Linked DNA regions of Homo sapiens: all the other regions are linked to region 2. The links come from fine-mapping of genetic effects on gene expression. A gene starts in region 2. Each other region holds a variant in brackets. All regions are shown on one strand. Distances are between the middles of the regions.

Region 1 (2,801 bases), 25 kb before region 2:
AGCAGAGGGGGCCCCATCTCTGCCCCAAATCCAAGTCTGGCCAGCTCCTTCCCCTAGGGATAGATACTTGGTGGGGAAGAGAGGGAGCTGAGAAGGTCACCCAAGAAAGGTGAGCCGGGCCGTCTGCCTGGGAGTCAGAATGAGGTGGCCCATCCTCGGACTTGACCATTTCCCAATGCCCTGTTTAATTTAATTTTTTATTTTATTATATAGGGACAGGGTCTCAATATATTGCCCAGGCTAGTCTCGAACTCCTGGACTCACATGACCCACTTGCCTCGGCCTCCCAAAGTGCTGGGACTACAGGCATGAGCCACCACCCCCACCCCCCAGATAATCTAAATTCAGAGCCTGCAAAAGGCTCAGGGCCCAAGGAGAGAAAATGGAGACAGAAGAGAAAGGGAATTTCTCCCTCCAGGTCCCCACGCCTGAGTCAGACCCTCTCACTGTTTCCTTTACAACCACCGCACACCCACCTGGACCTGGCCTAAGAAAAGGAATACAAGTCCATGAAGGTTCTCCCTTCTTTTTCTTCTTTTTCTTCTTCTTTTTCGTCTTTTCTTCTTCTTCTTTTTCCTCCTCCTCCTCTTCTTCTTCTTCTTTCTTCTTCTGTCGCCCAGGCTGGAGTGTAATGACGCGATCTTGGCTCACGGCAACCTCCACTTCCGTATCTCAAGGAATTCTCCTGCCTCAGCCTCTGGGACTACAGGTGTGCGCCACCACACCCGGCTAATTTTTGTATTTTTTGTAGAGACAGGGTTTCGCTATGTTGGCCGGGCTGGTCTTGAACTCCTGACCTCAGGTGATCCGCCCACCTCGGCCTCCCAAAGCGCTGGGATTACAGGCATGAGCCACCATGCCCGGCCCATCATGTACCCTTCTGATCCTACAAGCGCACTGTGAGGTCGGCCGGGCATGGAGTTTGGTTTCAACTTCACGTTGAGATCGGAGCAGCTCTGAGAGGTCGGGGCTTCATCCAGGGCCACACATCCAGCTGGCAGCAGAGCCACCTGTCCACCCAGCTCTCCGGATGCCCGGCCTGTGCTCCCTACACAGCCGCTTACTGCCCTGCCAGGAAAAGGCAGGCAGGAGGGATCTTTCCACTCCCATTAGGGGCTGAGGAACAGGCATCTAGGAGCTAAATCTGACTGGGGGAGTCTCCCAGCCCAGACAGCCCAGGGCCCTGCCCAGGGGTCAGTGCTTTCACTTGCTGACCTCATGCCTCCACCACTACTCGGGGACAGATGAGGTTCAGCATGACTCAGGTTCAGCCAAAGGATACTAATGGGCCATGGAATAAATCCTGCCTGGAGCCCTGTTCACCTCAGGACTTGTCCTCAGACCATGGACCTTCCTCCCTGGTCACTCAGTCAAGGAATCGCAGGAGATCAGTGCAAGAGTAGCTCTGAATGGGCCGGGCGCGGCGGCTCACGCCTGTAATCCCAGCACTTTGGGAGGCCGAGGCGGGTGGATCACGAGGTCAGGAGATCGAGACCATCCTGGCCAACACGGTGAAACCCCGTCTCTACTAAAAATACAAAAGATTGTCCGGGCGTGGTGGCG[G/C]GCGCCTGTAGTCCCAGCTACTCGGGAGGCCGAGGCAGGAGAATGGCGTGAACCCGGGAGGCAGAGGCTGCAGTGAGCCGAGATCGCACCACCGCACTCCAGCCTGGGCGACAGAGCGAGACTCCGTCTCAAAAAAATAAAAAAATAAAAATAAAAAACAGTAGTCCTGAAGCCCCCAGCCCAGCACACCTGGTCTTTGCAGGCCCGAGACACCCACAAGAGTAACAGCAGCGCCTCATTCAGGAGGCTGAGGACTAAGTGAGCAAACGCAGGCCGAGTGCTTCCCCAGGCCTGGACCTCCATTAGCATTCAACTGTGTTGTCATTGCTGTCATTGCTACACTGGAGTCAGATCACTAGGCCTTTAGGAGGAAGAACGTGCCCTTCCTGTTGACAGGCCGGGCCTCTGACCCAGGCGTCTCCTCTCCGTGGGGTGGCAGGAAGGGCCCAGGACTCAGGTGGCAGATCAGGGACCCCCTGGCCTGGCCTCTGCTCAGCTGTGTGATCTTGGGGAAGCCCCGCCTTGCGTCCCCCACCGCCTTGGTTTTCTTCTTGCTGAGAAGTGAGGGAGGTGGCTGGCTGTTCAGCAGGGCCCCTTCCACTTTGGGAATCCCCAGTTTCAGCAGCAGAACTTCCCCAAGCAGAAAGCTGCTGGGAAAGTGGGTGCCCAGGTGGGAGGCGGAAGCCCCAGGGAGAGGCAGACGAAGGTGCCCTGTGCGGGCCCCGCCTCCAGCCTGGTGGACAGTGCCCTGGGTTTCCATGCCCAGACCAGGGCCTTCCTGGAACCGCAGCCAGGACGTGAGAAGCTGTCAGACAGCTGCCTCTGTGTTCCTGGAAGCTGTGGTTCAGGAAAAGTGGGAGGGAGAGAAGGAGGGAGAGAGCAATCGAGGGAGAGCAGAAGAGTGTGAAGAGAAAGAGAAAGACAGGAGGAGGAGCAAGGGGAAGGGAGGAGGCAAGCGTGGAAAGGTGAGAAGAGGTGAGGCAGAGGCCTACGTGGAGAGGCAGAGCCTGGGACGCTGCCTGCGGGGGAGGTCAGGTGAGGAGCAGGGAGGGCGGAGGCTGTGAGCAGCCACCCTGGAACAGAGCTCGGAACACCATTGCTTTTGCCTTCCTTCAGCCTGAAACACTGCCTGGCCACAAAGCAGAAGCAGCAGTTGCTTTCTTAACAGGAGGCAGAGCCGTTGTTGGGTGACCCTCTTCTCATTCCCTTGAAGAATCTCAGCCCATGCCCCCATCCCT
Region 2 (2,639 bases):
AGGGGGATGCAGCTTGACTCTTGGGAGAGACTTTGAGGTGTCTGGGCACAGGAGTGGGGAGTCCTCCGGGTACCCCATCAGGGACTGCTTCCACTGCTTGTATGGCCTCACCAGCCCAGCGCAGGAAGCCCCCTCTCCCTTCCCAGAATTGACCCTCTGCACCCTCTCCTGGGCCCTCTTCTCACTACCTCCATCTCCACCATGCCCCAACAGAGCCCCTCCCCCAGGCCCCTTTGGCCGCTCTCCACACCCCACAGCTTTCTGTCTGACCTGGTTTCTTAGCCTCTCTGGACCTCAGCCTCCTTATCTGTAAAATGGGAATAAGGATACTACTTCCCTTGTAACGCGGTGGTAAAGTTTAAATAAGCTAAGGAACACACTGCATGTCCTGCGGGCCCTGGCACACCAGACATGCTGACAGACGCTGGCTGCTTTCATCAGCTATGCAACCAAATTCTAAGGGGCCCTTCGTATGTGTCAGGCTGCGTGCCAGGAACCTAGAGGTACCACCGTACCACAGTACAAGATGCTGTGTCTGGCTTCGAAGAGATTTCAGTCTATGTGGAGAGAGAGAAAAGGGAAGCTATCAGCCAATAAAATCGTTTGCAAGCCTGTAATTCAGCAGGTTTTCAAGACCTGTCAAATGCCCAGCAATCTCACTCTGCAACTCTGCCTCTTAAATACAGCATCTTCCGGCCCAGCGTGGGGGTGGCTAAGCCCATCATCCAGATGTGATGAACTGGGGTCTGGGAAACCCACACCGGCCTCATCTGGCTTTTCCAGCCTGTCCTCCCTTCCACACATCAGGCTGACAGCACCAAACACGGCCGAGGCCTCAGCCCTGAGTCTCCCCGCTGCAGAGTGCCCAAGCCTGAGTTCCAGCAGGTTCTTCAGGGGCCGCTGACCAGGGAACACTGCGGTGAGGAGCGAGGACTTCGTCCCCACCCCGGCCCAGGGCAGGGGCTTCGTGGTGAGCCCACCCCACCCCAGAAGGCTCCTGGAAGGGCAGGGCAGACTGGCAGCAAAATCCTATAGGATGGGCCGGGCCAGAGGCAAGGGGTGGCCAAAGGCACCTGTCCAAGAGGTGGGAGGGACCACACCTGGGGGCAGGGACGAGTCAGGCACAGGGAACTCCGCCAGCCTAGAGGATCAAATTCCTCCGGGGTGAACTCTGAGATAGAAAGTTGGCCCGGGAAGCTCAAGGAGGGAGAGCGGCAGAGGGGAAGACTCTGCAATTCTGCTTGCCCCCCACCCCGGCCCAGGCAAGCCACCCTGCCCCCGGCCCCCACCTGCCCGCCCCGCCTGCCCTTCCTCACCCCGGTGCCTGCGGGATTGCTGGAGAGAACGCGGCGATGGAGCCGGGCAGGACCCAGATAAAGCTTGACCCCAGGTAAGTGAGGGCGGCGGGCCCTGGGCCAGTCGCTGGGCAGCGGTGGCCCCTATCCCGCGGCCTGTCCTCTCTCCCTCCCAGAGCCCTTTGGCGGCCGCACTCAGAATGAGACAGGACTGGAAATGCTCTAGCTGTTCCTAGGTCCTCAGGGACAACGTGGGTTTGGGCCAGGGTGTGACACTCCAGGGCCTCGGCCTTGCCCCCCAGCGTGGGGAGAGAAAGGTCGCAGAGCGGGGGCTGTGGAAGGCATTCGCAGAGGAAATGGCAGCATCCCTCAGCAGCAGGGGGCCCGTCCGTCTGTAAGGACTCACCCTTCCTCTGGGATCCTGCTCTTCCTCTCTGGTCAGTCCCTGGGCTGCTGCCCGACCCGCATGGAGAGAATCCACGGTGGGCTCTTCAGGCACGGCAGCCAGGCACAGCCTGGCTAGGTGGCAGCTTGTCTTACTCCCCCACCTGGGCCAGTTCTCCACTCCCTCTAAGAAAAGGGCCCTGAGGCCGGGCGCCTGTAATCCCAGCACTTTGGGAGGCTGAGGCGGGAGTCCAGGAGTTTAAGCCCAGTTCCAGTTTGAGTCCTGGAGTTCGAGACCAGTGTCTGAGCAACATGGCGAAATCCTGTCTCTACCAAAAATATAAAAAATTAGCCGGGCCTGGTGGCGTGCACCTGTAGTCCCAGCTTACTCATGGGGATGGGGGTTGAGTAGATCACTTGAGCCCAGGAGGTCAAGGCTGCCTGTATGAGCCAAGACAGACCACTGCACTCCAGCCTGGACAACAGAGCAAGACCCTGTCTCAAAAAGAAAAAAAAAGAAAGAAAAAGGAAGGAAGGAAGGAAGGAAAGAGAAGGGGAAGGAAGAGAGAAAGAGAAAGAGAGAGCAGAAGGAAGGAAGGAAGGAGAAGGGGAAGGGGAAGGGAGAGAGAAAGAGAAAGAGAGAGTGAAAGGAAGGAAGGAAGGAAAGAAAGAAAGAGAGAGAAAGAGGCCCTGAGGGGAAATGGACAAAGTCCTGCACTCAGGAGTGGTTGAGGGTCCAGTGTGCAACCCTCCCCCTTCCCCCAGCCCCCATGGTTCTGAGCACAGGCTGGTGTCTCGCCAGGTACACAGCAGATCTTCTGGAGGTGCTGAAGACCAATTACGGCATCCCCTCCGCCTGCTTCTCTCAGCCTCCCACAGCAGCCCAACTCCTGAGAGGTGAGTGGGGACCCTCCTCAGAGGGAACTGAGAGGAGGGAAACCAGGATAGCTGAGTGGAGCT
Region 3 (2,801 bases), 460 kb after region 2:
GCAGCCTTCCCTTCCTGTCCCCACAACCTTTATCTGATTGTTTATAACTGTGAGCTTCCAGTCTGTGAGAACACCTATGTGGATTTTGTTTGTTATCACTGAGGGTTTCAGCTAACTCATAGCCACAAAGTCATTGGACTATTGGACTTAGAGGGCTATTGAGCCCTCTAAGATGGGTATGTCTCAGCTCTCTTTCTCATCCAGGTGCCAGCACCTACCTGTGAGATACTGACCAGGAATCTCTTTCCTAACACCCCTAAAATAGGCTGGAATCTGCCCCCCACCCCTCAAGCCAGCTGACAGCAACATCAGGACAAGTTTAGATGTTTCTAAGCTGACAAAGGGCACTCTGCTTGGGAACTGCCCACTGGTTTCTTGGTATCAATAAACTAGAGCTTCACCACCCACCCCCACATCCTCAAATCTGATGTCCTAATCAGGGAATTACAGCTCGGTCTTCCCTTATGATTTCAACATCATAAACCTTTTAGGTCTGTTCACTTCTAGAAAGATGCATTTATTTGCTTGAGGCTTATTTAAAGTCCAAATACACAGAAATCTTACTCCTTGTTTGAGCAAATCCCTAAGACATTCATTTATTCAGCAAATATTTACCAAGCTGCTGCTCTGTGCCAGGCACTGCTTAGCTCTGGGGATACATACAAAGCTATATTTTTAATTCATTGGTTGTCACTTACAAGTTACTTTTCTTCACTTCCATCCCCCATCCCTCCACTGTTCTTGACTCCCCCAAGTATCCTGAGAGCTGAGTGCTGAACTACTCCCGTCAGCACTGGGTCAAGGTTCTCTGTGCTGCATTTGGACAATGACAAGAAGGGTGTGTGGCATATGTATCATATAAGCTGTTTTCTGTGTCTTCATTTTTCTTAATTTAATGTGCTCCTGAAAGAGGAATCAGTTTCTCTTCCTGTGTCACCCATGCATTTGCCACATACTATAACACAATAGGCCATTTCTGTTCTTAGTCTCAAAGCTGGATGACACAGAACATCAGTTTGCCACATATCTAATCATCCAACAGACACATTAGTCCAGACTCTGGGCTCAGA[A/T]TCTCAAAGAAACTAGAAAACAAGTAATATTGGCTTAGCCCTAGTGCCAGTCAGTTGCCTCTTTACTTTCAGATCCCTTCTCCACCCTTTCCTGTTTTGCTCTGTATCCATCCATACTGATATAAATAAATGTCTAAATAAATTAATAAGTGGGAAAGAAGAATTATAAATAATGTGTGTAGATTCTTTCCATTCTAGGAAGTGAATCTTATCCTCCTCTGCTGCCCTCCCTCAACTTTGGAGTGTGGTTGGACTTAGTGATGTACTTCCAAAAAATAAAATATGGAGAGGCAAAAATAGTAACGTCACAGTAAAGCAACCTGGCAGATACTACTTGAACCGAGTGATGAAGGTTAACATCACCAATGGTGTCATGCAAGTAGTATGTACCCCTTGATACGATGTGATGAGAACGGCACATCACCTCTGGTATTCCTTCCAATAACCCATCACCCCAGTCCTATAATGAGAAAAATACAAGACAACCCAATCTGAAATACATTCTACAAAATATCTGACCAGTCCTCTTCAAAACTATCAAGGTCATGAAACACAAGGAAAGCCTAAGAAAGTAATAACTAATCACAATACAGTATTCTGGATTGGATCCTGGAAGAAACAAAGATCACTAATGAAAATATCTGGTGAACTATGAGTAAAGTCTGGAGTTTATTAATAGCAATGTATCAATGTTGTTTTCTTAGTTTTGACAAATGTATTGGATAAACAAATTGGGTGAGAGGTATATGGAAACGTTTTGTAGTATCTTCAGAACTTTTCTGTGACTCTGAAATTATTCTAAAACAAAAAAATTTTAGTAAACTCTCAAGAGGAAAAAAATGAATTACCAATGTCAGGAATTAAAATGAGAATATTGCTACAGACCCTACAACAATAGAAGATAATACGATGTTGTAACTATCTTTGCACAATAATTTGAATAATTTAGATGAAATCAGCAGAGGCTTTGGAAAATACAAGTAAATAAATATGAGATGAGAAGAAAGAATAAAATCTGAATAGTCCTGTAGGTTAGATTTGTAATTAAAACCGTTCTACAAAGAAAACTCCATGTCCAGATGGCTTTACTAGTGAATGACTCAAAATATTGAAGAAAGAAAAATATTAATATTCTTCAGAAATTTTTTAAAACGATAGAGGTTCATGACCAACATGGTGAAACGCCATCTCTCCTAAAAATACAAAAATTAGCTAGGTATGGTGGCTCATGCCTATAATCCCAGCTACTCGGAAGGCTGAGGTAGGAGAATTGCTTGAACCTGGGAGACGGAGGTTGCAGTGAGCTGAGATCGCGCCACTGCACTCCAGCCTGGGCGACAGAGCAAGACTCTGTCTCAAAAAAGAAAAAAAAAAGGAAAAGTTAATATATTCCAACATGTTTTATGAGGTGGGCAAAATCCTGATATCGAGACTCAAAACCAGACATTGCAAAAAGAGAAAATTGTTGGACGACCTCTTTAATGAGCTTGGATATAAATATTCTCAACAAAATATTAACAAAGCAAATCTGGCAATATACCCCAAAAAGACTTCACACCTTGCTCAGTAATGCCAGGTTTATTCTAGTAATGCAAGATTAGTATAACATTTGAAAGTCAATCAACACAAATTTTACATGAACAGACTAAAAGAATAATCATGTAATCATCTCAATATGCAAAAAAGCACCTGAAAAAATTCAATACCTGTTAATGTAATAACACTCAGGAA

Evidence for each region. PIP is the estimated chance that this variant, and not a neighbour inherited with it, causes the effect.
Region 1: its variant is the best candidate, but not a certain one, in a credible set for the expression of SLC51A in whole blood (TOPMed, PIP 0.60).
Region 3: its variant is the best candidate, but not a certain one, in a credible set for the expression of SLC51A in vagina (GTEx, PIP 0.74).

Annotation. Positions count from the first base shown.
Region 1 is chr3:196,190,285-196,193,085 of GRCh38, forward strand. No RefSeq gene overlaps it. Among named protein-coding and RNA genes, the nearest start is that of ZDHHC19, 20 kb to the right of the region's middle. RefSeq lists enhancers at 576-1,194, 2,155-2,224, 2,180-2,801. The variant G/C (reference allele first, on the strand shown) is at 1,564.
Region 2 is chr3:196,215,361-196,217,999 of GRCh38, forward strand. It overlaps SLC51A (solute carrier family 51 member A), which reads left to right and starts at 1,174. Exons shown (of 9, transcript NM_152672.6): 1 at 1,174-1,390; 2 at 2,482-2,576. The coding sequence starts at 1,353. All of the region lies in intron 2 of LOC105374304 (a long non-coding RNA gene), which reads right to left.
Region 3 is chr3:196,677,167-196,679,967 of GRCh38, forward strand. No RefSeq gene overlaps it. Among named protein-coding and RNA genes, the nearest start is that of CEP19, 34 kb to the right of the region's middle. The variant A/T (reference allele first, on the strand shown) is at 1,071.